2 linked regions of the Homo sapiens genome follow. Changing the gene in region 1 together with any one later gene gives a genetic interaction. Each region holds a gene or a part of one and is shown in the gene's direction. Other genes may lie near its edges.

What was found. Genes that interact genetically often act in the same process or in processes that back each other up.
Region 2: changes in PTP4A3 (region 1) and ZNF350 together harm fitness less than expected from each alone (positive genetic interaction), as found in Homo sapiens cells (one study listed by BioGRID).

What each region holds. Positions count from the first base shown.
Region 1 is NC_000008.11:141,395,021-141,398,520, forward strand, and holds part of PTP4A3 (protein tyrosine phosphatase type IVA 3), read left to right. Parts: intron 1-3,500. UniProt on the Homo sapiens protein: Protein tyrosine phosphatase which stimulates progression from G1 into S phase during mitosis. Enhances cell proliferation, cell motility and invasive activity, and promotes cancer metastasis.
Region 2 is NC_000019.10:51,973,133-51,976,860, reverse strand, and holds part of ZNF350 (zinc finger protein 350), read left to right. Parts: intron 1-287; exon of another isoform or gene 288-470; intron 471-1,935; exon of another isoform or gene 1,936-2,183; intron 2,184-2,329; 5' UTR 2,330-2,500; coding exon 2,501-2,515; intron 2,516-3,728. UniProt on the Homo sapiens protein: Transcriptional repressor. Binds to a specific sequence, 5'-GGGxxxCAGxxxTTT-3', within GADD45 intron 3.

The sequences.
Region 1 (3,500 bases):
ACGGGTGCTTCCTTCCACCCAGGAGCCTGAGCAGAGGGTGGAGGGTCCTGGCAGCTACCTACGGCAGCTGAGAGCTGCGCTCTTTAGCCGAGCGGGATCAGGGCTACGTGGACACAGCCCGTGCCAGTGTGGGTGGGGCACGAGCTGTGGGTTCCGATGGCCCAGTAGGCGTTCACCTGGCAGAGAGTGTGCGCGTGTCTCCCCTCCTTGGGGCGCCTCAGGTCAGGACCCTGAGAACCTCACTTATCCTTTGAGCTGCGCCAAGGCTGTTGTACAAAAGACAGTTCAGAAAATAAGGACAGGCTGTTCCTCCCAGCCAAGGGTGTGGCCCTAAGGACCCCTAGGTGGGGCATCGCTTCCCGCCAGGCACGTGCCACTCAGTCTTGGGCTGCTTTAGTGGCAGCCTCCTGGTTTGGAAGCGGAACTGAGGGTCAGGGATGACCACATGGCTCAGGGCTCAGCTGGGGTCCTGAGAGTGGGCCCTCAGGTTTACCTTCCTCCTGGAGGGGAACTGGGGGCCATTGCCCAGTGCACCCCCACTTCCCCTTAGGTGCGTGGGCCACCCCTCCCTCCTGCAGCCCCCGTTCATCTACCCAGGATAGGTGCATGGGCCACCCCTCCCTCCTGCAGCCCCCGTTCATCTACCTGGGGAAGGTGCGTGGGCCACCCCTCCCTCCTGCAGCCCCCGTTCATCTACCCGGGGTAGGTGCGTGGGCCACCCCTCCCTCCTGCAGCCCCCGTTCATCTACCCAGTGGGGATGTCCCCTGGCTCCTCTCCTGGCATCTTCCCGGGATGTAGGGGTGCTCCCATGCCCCCCGGCTCCTCTCCTGGTGTCTTCCCCAGATGTAGGGGTGCCCTCATGTCAGGGCTTATGCTTCTAGAAGGAGTGGAAATGCAGCACAGTCATTGCTGTTGCCTGCCAAGGGCCACCCTGGCTGGGGACAGATGGGGCTGCCTCCCCTCTCCCACCCTGTCCTGGCCACCTGCCCCCGCCAACCCTGCCACTGGCTCAGAGGAAGCAGGCCTAACCTGATGTGTAACCCCCACCCCTGCCGTGACTGTAACCCCGTGCCATGTGAAGGTGGGGCTCCTTGGCAGTGCCTGGTGATTGCGGTACAGCCAGAACCGGCCCCATTATCTGGGCTGTGGGTGCCATTGGTCAGGACCGTGATGGACTCATACGTAAAACTTGATGCATTTTAACTCCCTTCATCCTAGAGGATTGAGACCTCTGGCGGGTAAGTGTTCATATTACCGTCCTGCCCTAGAGCCAGGGAAGGACCCTAGGGGAGAAGTGACGTGCCAGGGTCACTGCTGGGAGGAGAGCAGGAATTTGAACGCTGGCCATGCCTCCTTTTTGGGGAAAGGTCAGTAAATGGGCAGGGGAGGGTGCTGGTCATTTGGGTGATGGTGCCAGTGGGGTGAGCAGCTCCAGGTCATCAGGTGGTATGGAATCTGGCCCCGGGCAGCCCGTCCAGCATTCCTCTCTCACCGAGCCCACAGCCCTGGAGCACCTACTGTGTGCCTGCTCTGGCCCACTGGGAACAGGACAGTCCCGAGCCCTGCCCCGAGGAGCTGGCGCCAAGTGGAGCAGCTGCACCACAGGCACACGGGGGACAAAGGGCACCGCTGATGATTTGGCCAGGAAGAGATGAGGTGGGGATGGGGGCTACAGGGTGGGGAGACGGTGGCCTCGGGAAGGGCTAGCTTGGCCACGCCAGCTTGGTCATGTCACCTTCTGAGTCTCAGTGTTCCCTTCTCACGTGGGACAAGACCACGCATAACCCGAGGGGCTGCATGTGTGGAGCCGACAAGCTGACGTGCGGGTCCTGAGTGCACTGAGCCCGCTGGGGTTCCAGACACAGTGGATGAACGATCCAGGGAAGGAAACAGCCTGGGCTGTGCTCTCTGGGACCTGCCCTTGAGCCAGGTACTCCTGTGGGAGGGTAGCCGGGCTGGCTGGGGGCCTGGAGCCCACAGCCTCTCCTCCCTTGCTGTTTTCCCGGCCAGGGAGGAAGCCAGGCTGGAAGACCCCAGAGGGCTAGGGGGATGAACACAGGTTGATCTGTGTTGAATTTGGCTCTAGCCACCTCCTCAGGGCCAGAGCGGCTCCTGGAGCCGGAGTGAGAGCTGTGTTACACGCAGGGAAGCCGGGGCTCGGGGAAGGTGGCTGCCAGGGTGTGCAGGGCTGTGCCAACCTCATCCTGGTGGGTCCCTGTGACAACAGGACAGGCTGCCTGCCCATTGTACAATGAGAGGCTGATGCTCTGTCACTTCATGAGGTCACACAGGCTCCAGGCAGTGGGGGGCTCTCTGAAGGAGGTCCCAGTGACCTGAATGGAGCCCCCGGGTGGGCTGAAACTTCTGCCTGTAAGGCCTGTCCTGGGTTGGGGTTGGGTGGGAGAGGGCAGGAGTCCTGCTGGGAAGGGCCTCTGCCATGCCCAGCTCCTACCACAAGTACAGAACAATGACAACTCCGCCACCTGGCTGCCCCACGCTGGGCACATGCTCCCCGCTGGCCTCAGTTGGGAGTCCAGTGAGTCAGGAGGTGAAGGTGGGGTGCACGTCCCCTGCAGACCCTCACAAGGCAGGTGGCGGGGCGGGTATTGGTCATGAGAACCCTGCCTTGGGGCCTGAGTGCCTCGGTGGCTGTGGAGCCTGGTTTCGACCTCTTTGGGACCAGTGTTCTTGTCCATAAAAGGCAGTGATCTTTCTGGATAGTTCAGAGAGATTCTGTTATCTTTGCCCATCAGAGCTGGAAGGGAGTTGAACAAAATGTTTTGCAGAAATTGGACCTGAGTTGGGCATTGCTCCTCCTGCTGCCCCTGGTTCTGAGGGCTTGGCACCACTAGCCCGCTCTCTGTCCAGGGTCGGCCCGGCTCCTGCCTTTATCATGTGTGAGCCTCGCTGTGTGTGGCTCAGTCCTGGACGGGCCGAGACCTGGATGCAGGACCCTGGACAGTCAGCGCAGGCGGAGCAGGGAGGGAGGCGTCTGCCTGAGGCCTGCTTGGAGGTGCCCAGGCTGGAGCCCTTGGCCCTGGAAGATGTGGTCAGGGCCCAGTGGTGTTGGGATGGCCAAGAAGAGGGCCCCTGTGCCTTCTGCCCAGGGCTTGGCCTAGCCAGTGCTCAGGGTTTATTTGCTGGATGAGGGGTGGAGTGGGCCAGTGGGGCCCAGGTCTCCTGCTAGGTGACCCTCAGAGGTGGGCATAACATCCCTTGGAGTCTCTGCTCTGCACTTGCCAATAAGAGGCTGGACCATTTGAGTGGTTATAAGTTGGGAAGCACTCCCTGATTGCTTGGTTCTGCTTGAGGCACAGCCTCCAACTCCCAGAGATTCCAGCACCCCTGCAGGAGCCAGCGTTGCTGATGTGGGCAGACGGGCGTCTGGGAACACCCCAGACTCAGCATACTAGGGTTCAAGTCCCTGACTCCCATCCTGGGGCATGGAGTGGCAGGAACCAGGGAATGTTCTAGAGTGAGGTGGTGAGGTGGAGCAGGG
Region 2 (3,728 bases), on another chromosome or scaffold:
TTTTTGATGAGCCTGTTTTAATCCTTCTCCTGCTGTATCCCAATTTTCCACATCAAGAGTGCCTGCCTGTGGAAACGATGGGTTATGTGTAATAACCTTTTGTGGCTTCTGCAGGAGGTTAGTGTCTGCGAATTAACCTGAGCTGCAGACTGTCTCAACAGAACTTTAAGCAACTGCACATAATGTTTTTCTTCAATAGACAAATTCTTTCCCTTGTTACCCTGAGTCAGAAAACTTCCCAGTACTTCTTTAAAGCACTGCTCCCAGTACCTCTTTAGGGCACTGACCTTATATCTGCTGCCGGCAGACTCTTCCCAGGGTCCCCTTTCGCCTTGTCAATTTCAGTTCCTCTGCTCCAGCAGACCTTCTTCATTCACGTCCTTGAAGTCCCATGTTTGGATGCTGCTAGTTGGGCGTGCTTGGAGTCCCTGTTCTGGTTGCCATTTGTAACCTGCACGGACCTAGGTGGACTAAACAAAGTGGGGTGAACACGGGAATAAAGATGAGACAAAAGAGTGTATTTGGAAGAAGGGATCGGGGGCGCTTTGCCTCTAGGGGACAAGGGCCCTGAGCTTTACACAGCCCTTCATATTTATTAGGCAAAAGAGACAGTGAGAAGGGGAGGTGGAAGAAGGGGTCAGCTGCTCGGTCCAGAGTAGTCTTGCAAGACTGCATTCTCTAGATGTCGCAGTAGATAACGGCGCCAGGGGTCCAGAGTAGTCTTGCAAGACTGCATTCTCTAGATGTCGCAGTAGATAACGGCGCCAGGGGTCCAGAGTAGTCTTGCAAGACTGCATTCTCTAGATGTCGCAGTAGATAACGGCGCCAGGGAGTGATTGCCTCCAGCAAACCTTCATCAGCCGGAGCAGTCATGAGTTTGCTGACATCCTGCATTCATGATAAACAGTTTGCTGTTTGATCTGTAGCCTCCAGTGGAATGCTGAGTTGGTCACGTCCCACGGGCCACGAGCCTTCGGCTCCCTGCAGCAGGTGCCTGTAAACTCAGCTACTCGGGAGGCTAAGGCAGAGAATTGCTTGAACCCGGGAGGCCGAGATCACACCATTGCACTCCAGCCTGGGCGACAGAGTGAGACTCCATCTCAAAAATTAAAATAAAATAAAATAAACCCCAGATGTTATTGGATTTTAATTTTTAATCCATTCTGACAGTTTTGAGGCATTTATATTTAATGTAATTAACTGGGATCCATGCTCTGTTTTTACTTAGCATAAAATACTTAATGTAATGTAATTTTCTTAGTACATTTTATTTTAAAACAGCTATCTAAATGCATTGTATTTGCTCTTTTTGCTCTGTTTTTGATTCTCTTCTTTTGGATGAATTTCTTGTTATTACATTTCCCCCTTTTGTTGGCATGGAACTTACGTACTTTAAAACAATTACTAGTTTTTTTTTTTTTTTTTTTTTTTAAGACGAGGTTTCGCTCTTTTTGACCAGACTGGAGTACAATGGCACAGGCTTGTCTCACTGCAACCTCCATCTCCCGGATTCAAGCAATTCTTCTGCCTCAGCTTCTGGAATAACTGTATTTTTATAGAGATGGGGTTTCACCATGTTGGCTAGGCCGGTCTCGGACTCCTGATGTCAGGTGATCCACCCGCCTCGGCATCCCAAAGTGCTGGGATTACAGGCGTGAGCCACTGTGCCTGGACTTACTAGTGTTAATTGTAACTAGAGATTACATGTAGTGTGCAACCTTTGTCATATTCTTCTGCTAATTGGCACTTTTCCATTCTACAGAAACCTTAGAGCACGTCAACTTTATTCACCACCTAATTATCCAGTAAATTATTGTGTATTTTAGCTTTTTATGTATTTAAAACCTCCTAAAATATTGTCAGTACTGTTTTTATGACAATGCTTATGATTTGCCCAGTACATTGGCTTTCAAACTGAAGTACATGTCTTCACAGGGTGTATGTACAAAGACTTTTGAAGAGGTGTGGGAGCACACATGATTTAAAGGAAAACAAAGACCAGGTCCTCTCCTTGCTGATTGTCTCTTTTCTAAAACTAATCTGCCTAAGAGTTCACCATCTCCTGAGGCTGGTGCTATGGTGGGTCTCATTTCCTACCTGCCTTCACAGTCCTTCCACGGAAACGTCACAGAGGAAAGGCATACCTCCACCACATTAAGAATCCTAGACATTATTGGCCACAGGTATAAAATCCGCTGGGGCTCCAAACAAAGGTATATAGTTAACTATATTGGGGGCATTGCTTTAAGATGAGTGCCTAGCAGCAGTGACAGTATCTGGGCCTGGAAAAAATGTACCACTTACATTGAATTTGCTCTTCAACCCACAGGTTCTGACTCCTCAGGAGCAAAAAACATAACCTGAAGAGGGAGGAAGTGGATTTGGGGTTCACCATTTCTTGGGGCACACTTGATTGAAAACTGAGACTTCTGAAGAGAAGGCCAGAAGATACAAAGACAGACCATCCCAGTTGAATGCTGTCTTCCAAGAACAGAAGAAAATGATCCAGGCCCAGGTAACTGACTTTTGGTTTGTTTTATTCTTTCCTTTGTTCCATAATAGATTTGTAGAAGCCTATAAACATCAATTTCACTAATATAAAAAGTATAAATTTCAAAAAGCAGGATCTGGAGAGAAGTAAGCTTAGTTTTTAAACTCAATATCATGCAAAATAGTAGGATAAGGAATATAATGTTCATAGCATTAACACTAAATTATGAATTTTGTGACACCATGCATGGCTGGAGGATCCTGTGGATTATATTAGCTGTCAGCTTGCATCTAATATCTCTGACAGCCAATGTCACAAGAAAATCATAATTTACATGGTATGTCCTGTTTTTGAAGATAAAACAGATTACTTCCTGGGGGTTGCCATTATTTCATGGCACTTTGGTCTCAGGAAATTTCTTCAGTGGTTCTTCCTAGAGTTGATGTGGTGGATGGTGTCCAGAATAGCAGCCTTCTCATAAATTCAGATGCAGGTTTCCTGTGGCTGTTTCTTGAAGGACTCCTTATATACTGTTACGGAATAGACTAAGCAAACAGTAAACACAGGGACCAACACAAGTTAATTTCAGCCTTGTGGCAGTCTGGATTTAACTTGGAATAAAACCTAGACATCCTGGGAATATGGCAGGATTCCAGGACTTTCAAATGGTTCTCAATGAACAGATAGCTGAACTGGTGTTTGAATATAGATTTGGAGACAGGGAGTTGAAAGTGATATTGTCTGAACAGGACTTGGATTGGAGTTTACAGATTTCCTTTAGACTTTCACCTTGTAGAAAATGCCAAGTCCTTATTGTATAGTAAATAATTGAACAAAGGGAGTTTTGGCCTTTGTGTTCAAGCTAATGGAGGGTGAGCTCTGGGCTTCTGGAATATCTTGCTAATGGTAGTGTCTTTGTTTGCTTGGGTCCTTTGGCCACTGGACAGCCTAAAAATACGAACTATGATAGATCTGTGATCTATGATAGGCCAGAAACTTCCAGAACTAGAGGCTAAAGTTAAAACCTGACTTCTGGGAGGGTGTGGACCTAAGATCAGCCACATAGGTCATCTGTGATTGTGTCCCAGTAAAGTAAGAAAGTACACATATCAAAAAATAAATTTCGGCTGGGCGCGGTGGCTCATGGCTGTAATCCAGCACTTTGGGAGACCGAGGTGGGTGGATCACGAGGTCTGGAGATCGAGACCATCCTGGCTCACACCGTGAAACCCTGTCT